Regions from separate parts of the Homo sapiens genome. Here region 2 is linked to region 1. Evidence: fine-mapped QTL for protein levels in blood plasma. Region 1 holds a variant in brackets. A gene starts in the other region. All regions are shown on their forward strands. Region 1 overlaps SBNO2 (strawberry notch homolog 2). Region 2 holds the start of LAMP3 (lysosomal associated membrane protein 3).

What was found. A credible set is the group of variants that fine-mapping cannot tell apart. PIP is the chance, under the fine-mapping model, that this variant and not a neighbour inherited with it causes the effect. The UK Biobank Pharma Proteomics Project read protein levels with antibody pairs (Olink). The fine-mapping took linkage between variants from a reference panel, not from the people measured, so its PIPs are less certain.
Region 2: LAMP3 starts here. The variant in region 1 is the best candidate, but not a certain one, in a credible set for the plasma level of the LAMP3 protein (UK Biobank, PIP 0.61).

Annotation. Positions count from the first base shown.
Region 1 is chr19:1,149,001-1,157,322 of GRCh38, forward strand. SBNO2 (strawberry notch homolog 2) reads right to left here. Exons shown (of 32, transcript NM_014963.3): 2 at 5,184-5,402; 3 at 369-442. The coding sequence starts at 5,276. Among named protein-coding and RNA genes, the nearest start is that of SBNO2, 21 kb to the right of the region's middle. The variant A/G (reference allele first, on the strand shown) is at 3,657.
Region 2 is chr3:183,158,521-183,166,842 of GRCh38, forward strand. LAMP3 (lysosomal associated membrane protein 3) reads right to left here and starts at 4,214. Exons shown (of 6, transcript NM_014398.4): 1 at 4,087-4,214. The coding sequence starts at 4,135. RefSeq lists enhancers at 1-280, 981-1,480, 3,393-3,602 and a silencer at 4,215-4,424.

The DNA of each region.
Region 1 (8,322 bases):
CTTCACCCCAGAAAACCTCCCGCCCCTTCCCACCCTCCTTCACCCCAGAAAACCTCCCGCCCCTTCCCATCCTGGTGTCACCTCCACAGGAGGCCCCCCTGGCCCATAGCCCACACCTCCCCGCCCTCTACCAAGCTGGGCTCTCGAGGAGAGGGAAGCCATGGATCACAAAACAGCGTTCCACAAACAGGGGTCTCAGCCTGGACCTGGCCCGTGGGGTGGAGCCTTCCAGGACCACGTGCACACCACCCTCCAAACCCCTCAACAAGACTTTGGGCCCTCGCGCCCTGCACCCAGAACTCCGTTTGTAACTGTGACTTCAGAATGAGCAAGCCTGGGGGCCAGGCGGGGAGGGTCCCGGTACTCACCGGCTGTCGCTGGAGAAGGCAGGGTATGGCGGCAGCGAGAAGGTGTTCCAGTAGGGGCAGTGCAGCATGGCGCTCTAGAAGAGACAGCGGGCATCAGTGAGTGGGAAGCAGAGGACCTGCGGTGCAGCCCGGCTAAGCCCTCCGGGCAGGGTGACAGGCCGAGAGGCTAGGGAGGCCCCGCAGTCAGGGTCCCATCCCGCCCCTGCTGGTATCTCCTGGGGAGTCATTTAACTGCCCCGTGCCTCAGTTTCCCCACCTGCACAAGACCCCACCCAAGGCTTGTGGTGTGGTCTGAAGGCACTGAACCACCCGCGTGAAGGGCTCAGCACAGGTCTTGCTCTACCAGCAGCCCCATGTGCAGGCCCGCAGCCCGGGAGTCTGCATCTCACACAAGACCTGGGGGTGCCGCTGGCCCCGGGACCCTGCTTGGAGGCCCCATTCTAGGAGGTGGAGGATCGGACCGTTTGCGTGAGGGAGACGCGCACCCGCTGCCTGTGGTGGAGGGTGGGTGTCGGGGGCTCCTCGGGCAGGGCCTGGGGCAGGCGAGGGCCTCACACCACCTCCAGGCCCCTCGGACAAGCTGATGTGCCCGGGAAGCTCAGGCTGCTGCGGGACGGGGCCCTGACTTCTCAGAAGCTGCACGGGGCTGGGGTGCGGGGAGCCTGCTTTGGGAAATGGTGACCAGTGGCCTGGAGGCTCAGCCCGAGGTCAGTGGAGGCGTGAGTGGCTCCAGGTTGGCCGAATCTCTGGTGGGTCTGACTCCAGGCCAGGCTTACCCAACACCCTCGCCAGGAGCCGATGTCCCCACCCCATGGTTCTCTGGGAAAACCTCACTATGCCTGCCCTTGGGAATGAGAGCGGCTTGAGGCACACGGCAGGCCCCAAAACCTGAGGATGGGGAGCACACGGGGCAGCAGCGGGCCCAAGGGCGGCAGCGGGCCCAGGGTCAGCACCTGCGGCTTCGGGGGCAGGGCTGTGGACACCTCGTGCCCTGCAGAATGGGCACCCCTCAGCAGGGCCCCCACCTGCACAGGGCCAACCTCACCTGCAGCAGAGAGACCCTGCCGTCACAGACGCCCCCACAGTCACGGGGGAGACCCTGCCGTCACGGATGCCCCCACGGTCACGGGGGAGACCCTGCCGTCACGGACGCCCCCACGGTCACGGGGGAGACCCTGCCGTCACGGACGCCCCCGTGGTCATGGGGGAGACACCACCAGCCGGGGGCATCATCCTGCTTATCCCAGCAGGACTGGGGGCCACGCTGGCTTCCAGAACAGGGTTGGGGGTTCGCCTGCTTCCCTGAGTCCCCCAGTGACCTCTCCCAGGCCCACGTGAGCCCTGCTCCTCTATGAGGCCCTGATGCAATTCCCTGGGGCTCGGCCACCTCTGCCCCTCATTCACCTCACACTGGCTGGGAACCAGCCCGGATGGCCGGGGGCCACTTTCTGTACCCGCAGGTGCTGGGTGGGGGATTCCAGGACCCCCGACAGCCTCGAGATAGGCAAAGCCCTCGGGGTGACCGCTGCCCCGCTCCTCCAGCTTTTGCATAAAATAAGTTTATCAGCAAAAGCCCACAGCTCCTCCCCTGCACAGAGGCCGGCAGCCTGGGCACCCTGAGCTCCTGCACCCGTGAGAAGACCCCGTGCAAGTGGCTTGCAGGAAGCCGGGCCACCAGCCACAGGGGCTCCAGAGCCCGGGTCTCCTGATCCTTCCCCTCCTCCTGCCCTTTTGGGAAGAGAGAAAGCCAGCCCTGGAGAGAAACAGGAACTTCCCAAGGCCATGTGGCACATCCGGAACATTCTGGAACAGAACTCTGACTCCAGACCAACCCAGCCTCCTCAGATGAGCTGGAGTCCGTCTCAGGCACACACGGCGCCTTGGGCCAGGCTGGGCAGGGCCACGGCCAGGGAACTGCAGCTGCAGGAAGGGGGCGGGGGGCTTGGGGTCGCAGGGCGGGAGGATCCAGGGGTCCCTGGCTCACCCAACATGCTCCACCTGTACCCAGGCCAGGCTAGGGGATGGGACGGGGGGAAAGTCCTGACTGCCTCTATCCCCCTAGTCTCCTCCCTCCCACAGCCCATGGCTCCTCTGAGACCTGCCATCCACACACACCCGAGTCCCACCCCACAGGGGTGCCATGGGCATGGCAGGCCAATCAGAGTCTTCCCTGGGACCTTCTCTGGCAGCCAGAGGGTGTGGCTTCACCTTTAGATGGCAGGTCCTAGCACATAATTGGTCCAGAGATGGGCACCTGACCCTGCCCAGACAATCAGAGCCTGCCTGGTGATTTTCTTTCCTTTCCTTATTTTGAGACGGAGTCTCACTCTGTCACCCAGGCTGAAGTGCAGTGGCACGATCGTGGCTCACTGCAACCTCCACCTCCCGAGTTCAAGCGATTCTCCTGTCTCAGCCTCATGCGTAGCTGGGATTACAGGCGCCCGCCACCACGCCCAGCTAACTTTTGTATTTTTAGTAGAGATGGGATTTCATCATGTTGGCCAGGCCGGTCTCGAACTCCTGACCCCAAGCAATGTGCCCACCTCGGCCTCCCAGAGTGCTGGGATTTCAGGCGTGAACCATTGTGCTGGCCGGTGTATTTTTATTTCTAATTGAATACTCTGGGCACTGGAAGAGGCTGGGCTGTGCGTGTGCGAACTCAGTCGACCCTGCCCAGAGGTGTCCATGACGTACCCGAATGTGACGGAACCCGGAACAGGGAGGGTGGGATGAGCCTCACACACGGGATGGGGAGCAAAGCCGGTTACGCGCACGGGTGCGCCCCGGCCTGAGCCCTGTGGCTGGTGTCCAGTGCCCCCGCCGGGTTCCAGCCCTGTCGCATTCCCCGACTGTCACTGCTAACACCTTCCTGCTCCCGCTCGGATCCTTGAAGATGGCTCCTCTGTCTCCACATCCCATAATTCGCTTAATTATTTCCCCACCGTAGAGCCTCTGGGGAGATTCCAGTTTCCTGCCACTATAAATAGTGCCGCTCTGTCTTCCCCTCCCTCCTGGATTAGTCCCCAGGGTGTGTTTCCGAGATAGAATTCTTGGATCGGAACAAGCTCCTGGCGGGTTTCGGGGGATGGAGCTGTTCCGGTGGGGATGTGGCTTGGCCAGTCCCCTTTATGGTGGCCCAGGAGGCTGACCGACGGCCGGTACTCGAGCTCCACCGGGGCAGCTGTGAGGATCCAGCCTCAACCCCAAGGGACTCAGGAACTAGGGAGGGGGACAGGAGGGGTCTGGGCCGCAACAGGGACCCTGCTACGAGAGGGGTACCCTGGCCCC[A/G]GCTCAGAGCCCCCTCTGGACGGTCAGAACATGGCAGGAAGCTGCCCAAAGCCCTCTGAGGATGGACTGCCGAGGGGTGTCTGTGATGTTCGCCCCACAGGCCAACCTGGGTGTTGGGCTAGGGAGTACCCAGGAGACCCTGGAGTCCTGGAGCAGGTCCTGCTGCTTGATAGGAGAGGGCAGCCCCTCTGTCTCCAGGTAAATCCCCAGGCAGGGCCGGGCGCGGTGGCTCACGCCTGTAATCCCAGCACTTTGGGAGGTCAAGGCAGGCGGGTCAACTGAGCCCGGGAGTTTGAGACCAGCGTGTCCAACGGGGCAAAACCTCATCTCTACGAGAAAATTTTAAAAATCTGCCGGGCATGGTGGCGCGTACCTGTGGTCCCAGCTACTCAGGAGGCTGAGGCAGGAGAATCACTAGCCCAGGAGGCAGAGGCTGCAGTGAGCCGAGATCGCACCACTGCACTTCCAGCCTGGGCAACAGAGTGAAACCGTGTTTTAAAAATAACAAAACAAAATAAAATAAAATGAAATAAAATAAAAATAAATATATATATACACGTTTATATATTTTTAATTTAAAAATTTTTTTTTTTCTTTTTGAGCCACAGTTTCGCTCTGTCACCCAGGCTGGAGTGCAGTGGTGCAATCTCTGCTCACTGCAGCCTCTGCCTCCCAGGTTCAAGCGATTCTCCTGCCTCAGCCTCCCAAGTAGCTGGGATTACAGACACCTGCCACCACGCCAGGCTAATTTTTTGTATTTTTAGTAGAGACAGGGTTTCACCATGTTGGCCAGGCTGGTCTCAAACTCCTGACCTCAAGTGATCTGCCCGCCTTGGCCTCTGAAAGTGCTAGGATTACAGGCGTGAGCCACCGTGCCAGGCCTATTTTTCATTTTTTTGAGATGGAGTCTCACTCTTGTCGCCCAGGCTAGAGTTCAGTGGCGCCGTCTCCACTCACTGCAGCCTCTGCCTCCTAGATTTAAGCAATTCTCCTGCCTCAGCCTCCCGAGTAGCTGGGATTACAGGCGTCCGCCACCACGCCTGGCTAAGTTTGGTATCTTTAGCAGAAGCGAGGTTTCACTATGTTGGCCAGGCTGGTCTTGAACTCGGGACCTCAGGTGATCTGCCCACCTCCACCTCCCAAAGTGCTGGGATTACAAGCACGAGCCACTTGGCCAGAAACATATTTTTTAAGTAATTCCCTCACTGACAGGTTCCTACAAGTAAAGTTGAGCCCCCCCTACAGCTGACGGCGAAGGAACTGGAAGCTCTGCAGCAGGGAGAATCTCCTCAAATGTGCTTCTTGAAAAGCTGGGGCCATGAGTAGCCTCCCATTCACATCCCCATGGGGACCCTTCTCCAGGGCCCACGGGGGCGGGTGGAGCCGGGCTCCGGGCCAGGAAGGTCAGGTGGAGATCACGCCGCGTCCACTGGGGCAGCATTCCGCACGACGTGACCCCGGGCACTCGGAGCGGGGCAAGTGCCCGTGGACCCCGTCGGGTGGGCCGGGGCCGGGGGTGGGGCTCACCTGCAGGGGCGGCGGGCTGTACAGGAGGCTGCCCGCCGGCGGGGGTTCATGCTGCGGGTAATCCCTGTCCATGGCGGGCCCCACTGCAAGCATCGGGCGGCAGGCGGGGTGGGGTCCTCGGCCGGGCAGCAGGCGGCGGGACTCCAGGACCCGGGGCCGCCGGGGCGTCTATCTGGGCTTCTCGCTCCGTGGTGGCGGCGGTGGCGGCAGCATCATGATCTGCAGAGGGAGACGGGGACGTCCTGAGAGTCCAACGGTGGTGGAGAGTGGTGCTCCCCGGCCGCCTCTCCCTCGGGCATGACCGGTCCCAGCCTGGGCTGCAGCTCCTGCTACCTCCTGGGCCGGAACCAAAAGGCGCTCCTTCCCCTCCCCACTCACCCCCACCCGCCATCAGCAGTGCCACCCAACTCCTTTGTGCTGCCCACAGCGCCTTTCCTGGCCTCCCCGGCCCCAACTACAACGATTAAGGTGGGCCCGACAGGGCTGCCCAGGTCACAGGGCAGCCGTAGGACCAGGCACCCAGACTGTGAGCAGTGGAGCTGCAGGCTGACTCCCCCACATCTGGCTTTGTCAGCAGCCGGTGTGAGACTGTGGAGGGAGAGTCCAACCCGGGCCCGGCACCCAGGGGAGCCCAGGGGACACTGGACCCAGCCCTGTCCCTCAGAGGCAGCAGGGGCTCCACAGTGAGGTCTCCCAAGGAGGGGGGTCAGGGGCCACGCAGAGCTGGAAGAGCACCCAGACCTCGTTTCAGGCTAATCACACACCAGCATCCCCACTGAGAACGTTCCTGGGCTACAGAGCCGAGCCCCACACCATCAGACGCCAGGGACAGCTCCCACGTGCCCCGCGGCCTCTGGCACACGGCCAGACGCCCGCCAGGCTGAGCCCCCACCAGGCCCTACCTGGCGAGTGCAGGGACCCAGGCTGGCCCGTGGTGGCAGGGAAAGCTTTCCAGGCGTCCGCCCAGCATGCTCACTGCCGAGGGCGGCAGGAAGGGGAGGCGGCGGCCACTCCCGGCCAAGCCCTGGAGTGAAGAAATCTCCGGGACTTCCAGTAATTGCCGTCCAGCCACACGCAGGCACTTGTGCAATCCCGTGGGGGAGAGGCACGTCTCTGCCCGGCGCTCCAGAGACAGTGGCCGGGCAACAGGGGCTGGGGGTCGGGACTCCTGTCCCAGAGACCAGATGGAGGTGGTCAGGCACAGTGGGGGTCACCCTGCCAGGCCGTCCCAACTGTCCGCGGCCTCTGCCTGCTCCCTGCAGTCAGGACGCTACAACCCACTGCCACCAGAGCTGGGACCCTTGGCAGCCCTTCCAGCTGCCCACGGGGACCTGCGACACCCTTGCCAGAACGGCCCTTTAGGGGAAGGGACAGGCCCGCTGGGATCTGGGGTCTTGGCCAATCCTTGTCAAAGATTCTGGGTCAGGCAGGATCAAAGCCTGGCTCCACCTTCTGAGTTGAATAACCTCAGACACCCAAGCTCCTCCAAGCCTCGGTATGTTCCTCTGGGAGACAGGTTCTCTGGGTAGAGCCTGGGACCCCCCGACCCCGGCCCCGTGTGCTGGTGGCCACAAACAGCTCTGCTGGGCCCAAGGCAGCTGCTGATACCGGGGTCCCCATCCAGGGGCCCACCAGTGCTAGGGGGTGGCCCACCCCCTGCCTTGGGGCTCAGCAGCCCCTCCCCTGCAGGGACTCCCCTCAGCTCCTGTCAGCACCCCTTCCTGCTGCAGGTTCCATCTCACGGCAGCCACAGCCCCAGAGCTACGCTGACCTTTTCCACACTCAGGGCGCTCCTCAGCTCTGAGGCCACACAGTCCTGAGCTGATGGGCAGCAGGGCCCAGGCCCCACGGTGGACGGAGCTTGGGGAGGGGGCACCTTGGGCAGCTCTGGGGCGACCCCATGACCGTCCTCGGGGTACACCATAGCTGAGGGACCCCTCCAGCAGCAGGGGCCCTGAGCTCGCCTGTGTCCGAGTCCCCTAGGCCAGCACGGTGCTCCTGGCAGCTCCTCCCTCCCTACGGTCTCTGAGCCCCCCACGTCTGTGGACGCCCCTTCCAGGCGGCAACCCCAGGAGGCTCAGGGGACCGGGTTCTTCAAGGGGAGGGCTTCACACATGGCATGTGACCTGGAGTCCATGCCTTGGGGACCTGGCAGGGTGTGGAGACCTGGACCGGGAGGGGATGGGGGCAGGAGAACAATGCGGACACCAGGCACAACCAACCAAGAGTCAGGGCCCAAAACCAGGAGGCGGAGGCGGAGGCGGATCCTCACACACGGCTGCTTGGCAGTCTGGGATTCCTCAAGAGGCTAACGCTGGAGTCACCACACCACCGAGCAATTCCACACCACACAGAAACGTGGCCATGCACGTCCACAGCAGCACCACTCACAACAGCCACCCGAGGAAGCAGCCCAGTGTCCACGGATAGGCGAGTGGACCAGCATGTGGCGTGGCCCATCCACGTGCCAGAACACGACACAGCCATGAACAGCAGCGAGGCCGACCTAGGCCACAGCGCAGACGCACCTTGAGGACGTCACGCTCTGTGAGAGACGCCAGGCACAGATGTGTGTGATCCCACTACTATGCACTGTCCAGGACGGGCCCATCCAGAGACAGAAGGGGATGCGTGGGTGCCGGGCTGGGGCGACCCTGCACCCGGGGCCCATTTCCAAGTCCCCCCACAACCCAACACTTCAGGCTGTGCCCACTCCTGAGAACGCCCACCCTCTGCAATCCCCCAGGACCCGCCACTCCTGAGAACGCCCACCCTCTGCAATCCCTCAGGACCCACAGCCCTGCCTTTCCGCCCACTGCCAGCCCCCCATCGCCTCCCACCCTGTCCTCGGCCATATCTCACAACCCCTGCTGCCCCGATCCCCAGGCCCTCCCGCAGCCCCCAGCCCCTAGCCCTGCCTGCAGACTCGGTCCTGTCCGAGGGCCCACGCCCCCAAGGGCTGGCTCCCACCCCATGGTCCTGAGCCCTCCGGACCCTTCCCCCATTGACTCCGCCGCCGTTTCTTGCAGCAGCTGTGACCACGCCATGTCTCTGGGGCATCCAGCTGCCCCAATCCCCAGGATAAACCCTAGTGGGACACTGGGTGGGGTCTTGGGGCCTGAGAACACCCCAACGCAGC
Region 2 (8,322 bases), not on the chromosome of region 1:
ACTTGGCAAACAAGCACCCCAGGGCCTTGATCCATTGCTTGGACTCCACTAGATGGAAATTTGCATGAAGAGGCGTTAGAAGGTTTTGGTTCCCCTACAACCAGTGGGTGTGAGATGAGTCATTGCCCAGTCCCCTGAGAAAGTCAGTGATCTCACAAGGGATTGTTTCTAGGTATTTTCCTGACAGCCAGTCCCTTCCCAGACAGCCTTTGGTTGGTTTCCCTGCCACACCACTCAACAGTATGTACGGGTCTCCTCTCAGGCAGGCTCTGTACCAGGCACTGGGGGTAGGTCTTTGTTCTCAGGGGCCCTGTGAGGCAGACACATGAGTAAACCACACTTCTCAGTGTGACAAGTGTTTTTTTTTGTCTTTGTTTTTGTTTTTTTTTTCTCCTTGAGACAGGGTCTCACTCTGTCACCCAGGATGGAGTGCAGTGGCATGCTCAGGGCTCACTGTAGCCTCAGCTTCCTGGGTTCAAGCGATCCTCCCACCTCAGCCTTTCCAGTAGCTGCGACTACAGGCATGTGCCACCATGTCAAGCTAATTTTTGCATTTTTTGTACAGTCTCACCATGTTGCCCAGTCTGGTTTCAAACTCCTAGGATTAAGTGATCTGCCTACCTCAGACTCCCAAAGTGCTGGGATTACAGGCATTGGCCACTGTGCCCGACTGACAAGTGTCTTTATCAAATCCCCAGATACTATGAGAGTGTGGGTAGGGTGGGAATCCAACACAAGGATAAATTCTTCAGGCAGACAAAGGAGGAGATGGTTTCCAGACAGGAGGAAGAGAATGTGTAAGGGCGCAGAGGCTTCAGAAGTCTTGTATGTCTGGAGAACAGCAAGGGGTCAGCATGACGGGAACACAGGGACGGTATGGGAAGGGAGGGGTGAGGAGGGGAGACCAGCAGGGAGCAGGCCTGGCAGGCCTTGGAGACTACACACTGTCTGCAGAGCTCTGAGGAGCACAGTCAGGGAGTCATTGGAGCCCCACGGCCATGTCCAGGTTCAGGGAATCACAGTTTAGCCCCCAGCATGTTTTCTGGCACCTCTAGGGGCAGCAGAAGCAGCCCCAGCAGGGTGCAGCAGAGAGAGTCAAGGAAATCCTAGAGCAGAAGGGCCACTATCCCTGTGACAGACTGCTGGCTGACTATTCCAAAACCCAGTCTCCCCTTCTTTCTAACAGTACCTCAAGTTTCAGCTGAGCACTTGTTGCCTGGAATAAAGAGTTCTATGTCTAAACCTCCTTTCTAGCTGGGTGGGAGCATATGACTGAGTTTTAGCAAAAGAAGGGAAGTGTTAAGATCATGTGGGCCTTCTGGGAAGGCTGGGTGAAGGCAGCTCAATCACCTGTGTGGACTGCCTTTCTACAGCCCTTCTGTTTTTCCTCCTTTGACCAACCTGCAACTTGTATGTGATGGCTGGAGCTCCAGCCAACATGTGGAACCGTGAGGAGGCCTTGAGGGTAGAAGTCACATACCTATATGTCGGATCCTAATGACGGATCTCCAGTGAAGCACTCCCACACTAGAACTGACCTGAATTTCTCTGGACATGTTTTCACATGAAAGAGTAACAAGCAACTATCTTGTTTAATCTACTGTTATTTTGGCTTGTGTCTTACGTGTAACTGAACCTAAACTTAACTGACGTGAACTTAAATCCCCTCATTTTCTGGAGGAAAAATTTGAGATCAGGGAAGCAAGTTGACTGGGTAAAGATTACTCAGAGAGTTTACCCAAAAGCTCCGTCTCTCCTAGCAAAACTTTCTGATGATTTTTGCTCATTTCCAATTCAACAAGGATTTCTTGAGCCTATGCATGCAGGATCATGTAGCACAGTAGCGTAGAGCCTGAACCCCAAGGCCAGACTTCGTTTTTGTTTTGTTTTGTTTGAGACACAGTCCACTATGTTGTCCAGGCTGGTCTCAAACTCCTGGCCTCAAGCGACCTTCCACCTCAGGATCCCAAAGTGCTGGGATTACAGGTGTGAGTCACTGTGCCCAGCCAAGGCCAGATGTCTTGAATGCCAGTCTCAGGAATGCTACTCACTAACTGGGAGACCATGAACAATTCCTTAACCTGCCTCTGCCTCAGTACCGCCATCTGTAAAATAGGGATAAGAATAGCACCTACTTTTCAGGGTTCTTATGAGACTAAATAAGTTATAGGTAAGTAGATGTATGAGTAAAGCACATAGGTTAGCTGCTATGGGCACAGACTCTGGTTCAAAGCTCGACTCTGTCACCAGCTAGCTATGTGATCAGGGGCAAGTTATTTAACCTCTTTGTGCTTCTATTTCCTCGCAAGTAAAACGGAGACAATAGCAGTACTTACAAAGCTGTTTTGTGGATTAAAGCACTGCGAACAGTGCCTGGCATGCAGAGAGTGCCAGGAAGCCATGTCCATCATTGTTAATTACCATGTGCTGATGAGCCCTGTACTGAGTGAAGAAGGGGCTCAAGGTCAGGTTGTGAGGTGAATGGGAGAGGGACTGGAGGGACAAACAGGAGATACGAGTTAACATCACTGAGCAAAATCACTGCAGTAATTGCTGTCCAGGTGCTACCTCATTTGTTTCCCCAGTACTCCTAGCAGAGGATATTATTCTCCCCATTTTTCAGTGAGGGAACTGAGCACCCGAAAGGTTGGGTGATGTGAACAAGGCCTCCCTGCTGGGAAGGGTCAGGGCAAGGGTTTGAATCCAGTTCCGTGCCACCCCTCAAAGGCCTCCACCTCTGAGGAAGAAACCTCTGATGCATCCTTCACCTAGCTCACCTCTGAGAATTTGTAGCTCAGAAAGGAACCGGTAATGTGGGCATTTTCTCTCCACTTGCCCTTGCATTTGTCAATACTCACTGTATTTTTATTTTTATTTATTTATTTTTTTTGAGACAGAGTCTCACTGTTACCTAGGTTGGAGTGCAGTGGCATGATCTTGGCTTACTGCAACCTCCGCCTCTTGGGTTCAAGTGATTCTCCTGCCTCAGTCTCCCGAGTACCTGGGATTACAGGCGCCCACAACCATGCCCGGCTAATTTCTGTATTTTTAGTAGAGGCGGGGTTTCACCGGTGGCCAGGCTAGTCTCGAACTCCTGACCTCAAGTGATCCGCCGGCCTCAGCCTCCCAAAGTGCTGGGATTGCAGGTGTGAGCCACCACGCCTGGCCTGTCAATACCATTGTGTTTCTGAGCCTATCCATCCATTCAAGGAGCGCTCACATACAGGTCACTGTGGGTTACCGCTAGGCTGAGATTGTTTTGCTTTTTTAATAGCTTGCCCTGTGGAGCGTGATGATGACTTCCTCTTCTGTCCCCTAAAAGAACCTGAAACTGTAAGTGTGAAAGTGTGGCGCAGGGGAGAACTGCCTAGGCAAGGGCAGCTGGCACGACCCTTCTCACCTCTTCCCTAACATTCCTAGCATTCATGTTACAAGCAAGGGCCACCGCGCCCCCTGCTTGAGCATGTTAGCCGGGCGGTAGGGACGGAGACAGTTCTCTCATGACGTTCGAGTAACCAGGAAACTTCATCACAGGGACAACACCACAGCACCCGAGGACTCAATGTCTAGGGGGAAAAGCTCTGGAGAAAGCGGAGGGTCGGATCATAAAATAATCATAAACTCAGCGTCCCAGACGGCATCTGGGATGGGAAGTACAATGATCATTTAAAAAAAAAAAAGTCTTTGACACTCTTCCTACACCTTTCTGAAATGGCACAATCTGTCAGACCACATCTGATGCAAGGAAAAGCAAGACAGGAGCGCTTTTCCCGGATAACAAAGCCAAGACTCCCATTCCTAAACCCTAGCTCAGGTCTCCATCTCTTAAATCCGAGTGACCTCTACAAACTCTCCCTGAGAAGGTGTCCAGAACCCTTTTGGAAGCGAGGGACAGTGTCACTGTCTTTGGGGTTGACACCTGCTCTGAGTAACTCACGGAAAACAAGTTCCAGCTGGGAAGCCCTTGGACGCGCCACACCTCCCTACCCGCAGCCCGTCCTGTGGCGCCCGGGACTCCAGAGTGCGTTTAGATGAAAGGGGACCGACACGTCAGGGCCACCGCGGGAAGCGCTGAGGGCCACTCACCGGCCAGGGACGCGAAGAGCGCGGCCGCCGCGCTGAGCTGCCGGGGCATGGTGGGCGCTGGGCGAGGTTCTGCAGCGTGCGGCGAAGTCCGGGCAGGCCCCGAATCGGTGCCAGAGAAACCTACCTGTGCCGGAGAAACGAAACCACCTGCTTATGAGAAGCAGCCGAAAAGCCCGCCCAGGGCCGCTGGGCGGGGAGGGAAACTCCGCCGGCCCCCTCCTACCCCTACGGAGCAGGGAGGGGCGGGGACTCGGCGCAGCCGCCGGGGCCCGGGCCTCTGGGACCGTTTACCGCACGCGCGTGGTCCCGGCAGCGCCGGCCTCCTCCGCTCATACCCTGGGTCTCCTCCTTTCTTTTTCTTTTCTTTTTGAGACGAAGTCTCGCTCTGTCGCCCAGGGTGGAGTGCAGTGGCGCGATCTCGGCTCACTACAACCTCTGCCTCCCGGGTTCAAGCGATTCTTCTGCCTCAGCCTCCCGAGTAGCTGGGATTACAGGCATGCACCACCACACCCGGCTAATTTTTGTATTTTTAGTAGAGACGGGGTGTCACCATATTGGCCAGGCTGGTCTCGAGCTCCTGACCTCGTGATTCGCCCGCCTCGACCTCCCAAAGTGCTGGGATTATAGACGTGAGCCACCGAGCCCGGCCAGGGTCTCCTCTTTTATTTCTTTTCTTTTTATTTCTTTTGTTTTGTTTTGTTTTGTTTTGTTTTTTGAGACAAAGTCTCGCTCTGTCGCCAGGCTGGAGTGCAGTGGCGGGATCTCGGCTCACTGCCCTGGTTCAAGCGATTCTCCTGCCGCAGCCTCCCGAGTAGCTGGGGTTACAGGCGCCCGCCACCACGCCCAGCTAATTTTTGTATTTTAGTAGAGACGGGGTTTCACCCTGTTGGCCAGGCTGGTCTCGATCTCCTGACCTTGTGATCCGCCCGCCTCGGCCTCCCAAAGTGTTGGGATTACAGGCGTGAGCCACTGCGCCCGGCCCAGGGTCTCCTCTTTTCTAACAGCTCGGGTACCTTTCTGGGAACCCAGAGACGCTTCTCAGCCGGGAGAAAGCCAGCCACTAGGCGAGCAGGAGCCTAAAAACCCCTAAGCACCCTGACTCCATGTCTTCCCAGGGAGTCTGCGGCAGCCGCGCTCCACGCCCAGGCCTCGCCAGGACCGCGGTTTGCGGGAAGCAACAGGAGCACAGCCCAGAGGCGCTAGGTCTGGCTGGGAGCTCGCGCTGCCGACTCCCCGGCGTGCGGCGTCGGGGAACCTCTAGGAGCCTTGGATTCTTCAGCTGTAAAACGGACATAATAATGCCCACTCCCAGTGTGTTTTTTTATTTTCTTTTTTCTTTTTCTTTCTTTGTTTTTGTTTGTTTGTTTTTGTTTTTGTTTTTGAGACAGGGTCTCACTCTGTCGCCCAGGCTGGAGGGCAATGGCGTGATCTCGGCTCACTGCAAACTTGGGTTCAGGCGATTCTCCTGCCTCAGCCTCCACAGTAGCTGGGATTACAGATGTGCGCCACCACGTCCGGCTAATTTTTTGTATTTTTAGTAGAGACCAGGTTTCACCGTGTTGGCCAAGCTGGTCTCAAACTCCTGACCCCAGGTGATCCGCCCGCCTCGGCCTTCCAAAGATCTGGGATTACAAGCGTGAGCCACTGTGCCTGGCCCCAGGTGGTTTTACAGACCAGAAAATCCTGGAACAAAAAACACACAATATCGTTTTTTTTTTTTTTTTGGAGTCAGGGTCTCGCTCTATCACCCAGGCTGGAGTGCAGTGGCGTGATCTCGGCTCACTGCAACTTCGACCTCCTGGCCTCAAGTGAGTCTCCCACCTTAGCCTCCTGAGTAGCTGGGACCAAAGGCGCGTGCCACCACGCCCAGCTATTTTATTTTATTTTATGTAGAGAGGAGGTCTCGCTGTGTTGCCCAGGCTGGTCTCGAGTTCCTGGCCTCAAATGATCCTCCTGCGTTAGCCAACCATTGGGATTACAGGCGTAAGCCACGGCCCACGGCTCAACAACGCTGACAGGCAACCTTTTAATGTCTTATCTCCTTCCTCTATTAATTGGATTGTCTGTCAAAACAACGATGTTTTGACAGGGCTTGAGTCCCAGTGGGGAATACACATTTAAGCAGTATATTAGGAGACCCTCCTTATCACTAGATTGAGGGCTTTCAGCCTAGCCTCAAATTATTTTCTGAAAAATAACTTTGGCTACAACTATTTTGTCTTACTATGTTGCTCCAAACACTAATCAAGTAAACTTAACCAAAGCTTGCAGTGTGTTTCAGAATGGAATTTTTATGGTGAAAAGTGAGGGTTAACTTGTGCCAGTCAACCTAGTTTCAGCAACTACCTGCTTTCTGATCTTTGAGACAGTTTATTCAAAAGACGATAATTAAGTGGGTATAGACTGTGTGCCAGGCACTCTTCTTATTCCATTTAAGCGCCATAGCCACTCTATATGGACACTGTTGTTATTATCGCTGCCCCATTTCGCAGATGGAGAAACTAAGCACAAAGAAGGGAGTTGCCCAGAGTCACTTAGATAATAAATACCGAAACCTGACCATAAATCTTGTCTGCCTTGAGAGTCTAGGATTTTAAGCACATAGCCGGGCGCAGTGGCTCACGCCTGTAATCCCAGCACTTTAGGAGGCCGAGGCGGGCGGATCACGAGGTCAGGAGATGGAGACCATCCTGGCTAACACAGTGAAACCCAGTTCTATTAAAAATATAAAAAAATTAGCCAGGCGTGGTGGCAGGTGCATGTAGTCCCAGCTACTCGGGAGGCTGAGGCAGGAGAATGGTGTGAACCCAGGAGGTGGAGCTTGCAGTGAGCGGAGATCGCGCCACTGCACTCCAGCCCGGGCGACAGAAGGAGACTCCGTCTCAAAAAAAAAAAAATAAATAAAATAAAGCTGCTCCTCTTACCCTGGAAATTCCAAGGGATTTAGGAGCTCTGTTTCAGGAACCAGGGTCAAAGACCAAGTATTAAAACAAAAGATTCTCCTAGAACTCTGGCATATAAGGATTTTAGGAGCTCTGTCTTAGAAACTGGGACAGAGACCAAAGATATATTATTATATCGCAGTATCATAGTTTATTATTTTCAAAAAACGTTTTCTGGCTGGTACAGTGGTTCATGCCTATAATCCAAGCACTTTGGGAGGCCAAGGTGGGAGGGTCACTTGAGGCCAGAAGTTCAAGTCCAGCCTGGGCAACACAGGGAGACCCTGCCACTATTAAAAATTTTTTAAATTAGCTGGGCATGGTGGCACATGCCTGTAGTCCCAGCTACTTGGGAGGCTGAAGCAGGAGGATTGCTTGAGCCTGAGAGGTCAAGACTGTAGTGAGCTGCGATCAAGCGACTGCACTCTAGCCTGGGTGACAAAGCCAGACCCTGTGTCTAAAAAAAAGAAAAGAAGAGGAAAAAAAAAGGTTTTTATTTCAACTAAGTTGTTGGATTTATTAGCATAAAGCTTTTCATAACAATCCCTTGTCTTACAATATCTGTAGTATAGGTAGTGATGTCACTTCTTTTATTACTAATATTAATAATTTGTATTTTCTCTCTTATTTCCCTGCTAATATTAATAATTTGTATTTTCTCTCTTTTTTCCCTGATAAGTTTGGCTGGAGGTTGATCAATTCTATTCATGTTTTCAAGAAAAAAAAAAAAATTTCATTTCATCGAGTTCCTTCATTGTTCTTATGTTTTCTGTTTTATTCATTTCTACCTGATCTTTATTATTTTCTTTCTTCTACTTAACTTGTGTTTTATTTGCTCCTCTTTCAATAGTTTTCAAAGATGGAACTTGCCTGGGATATCCCAGCACTTTAGGAGGCTGAGGTGGGAGGATCACCTGAGGTCAGGAGTTCAAGACCAGCCTGGCCAACATGGTGAAACTCCGTCTCTACTAAAAATACAAAAATTAGCTGGGTGTGGTGGTGGGCACCTGTGATCCCAGCTACTCGGGAGGCTGAGGCAGGAGAATCGCTTGAACCCGGGAGGTGGAGGTTACAGTGAGCTGAGATCACGCCACTGCACTCCAGCCTGGGTGACAGGAGCTAGACTCTGTCTCAAAAAAAAAAAAAGAAAAAAAAAAAGATGGAAGTTGAGGCCAGTGGTATAAAATCTTTCTTCATCTCTAATAAACAGGTTTACTGTTATGAACGTCCCTCTAATTACTACTTTAGTTGGATCCCACAAGTTTAATATGTTTTCATTTTCATATAATTAGAA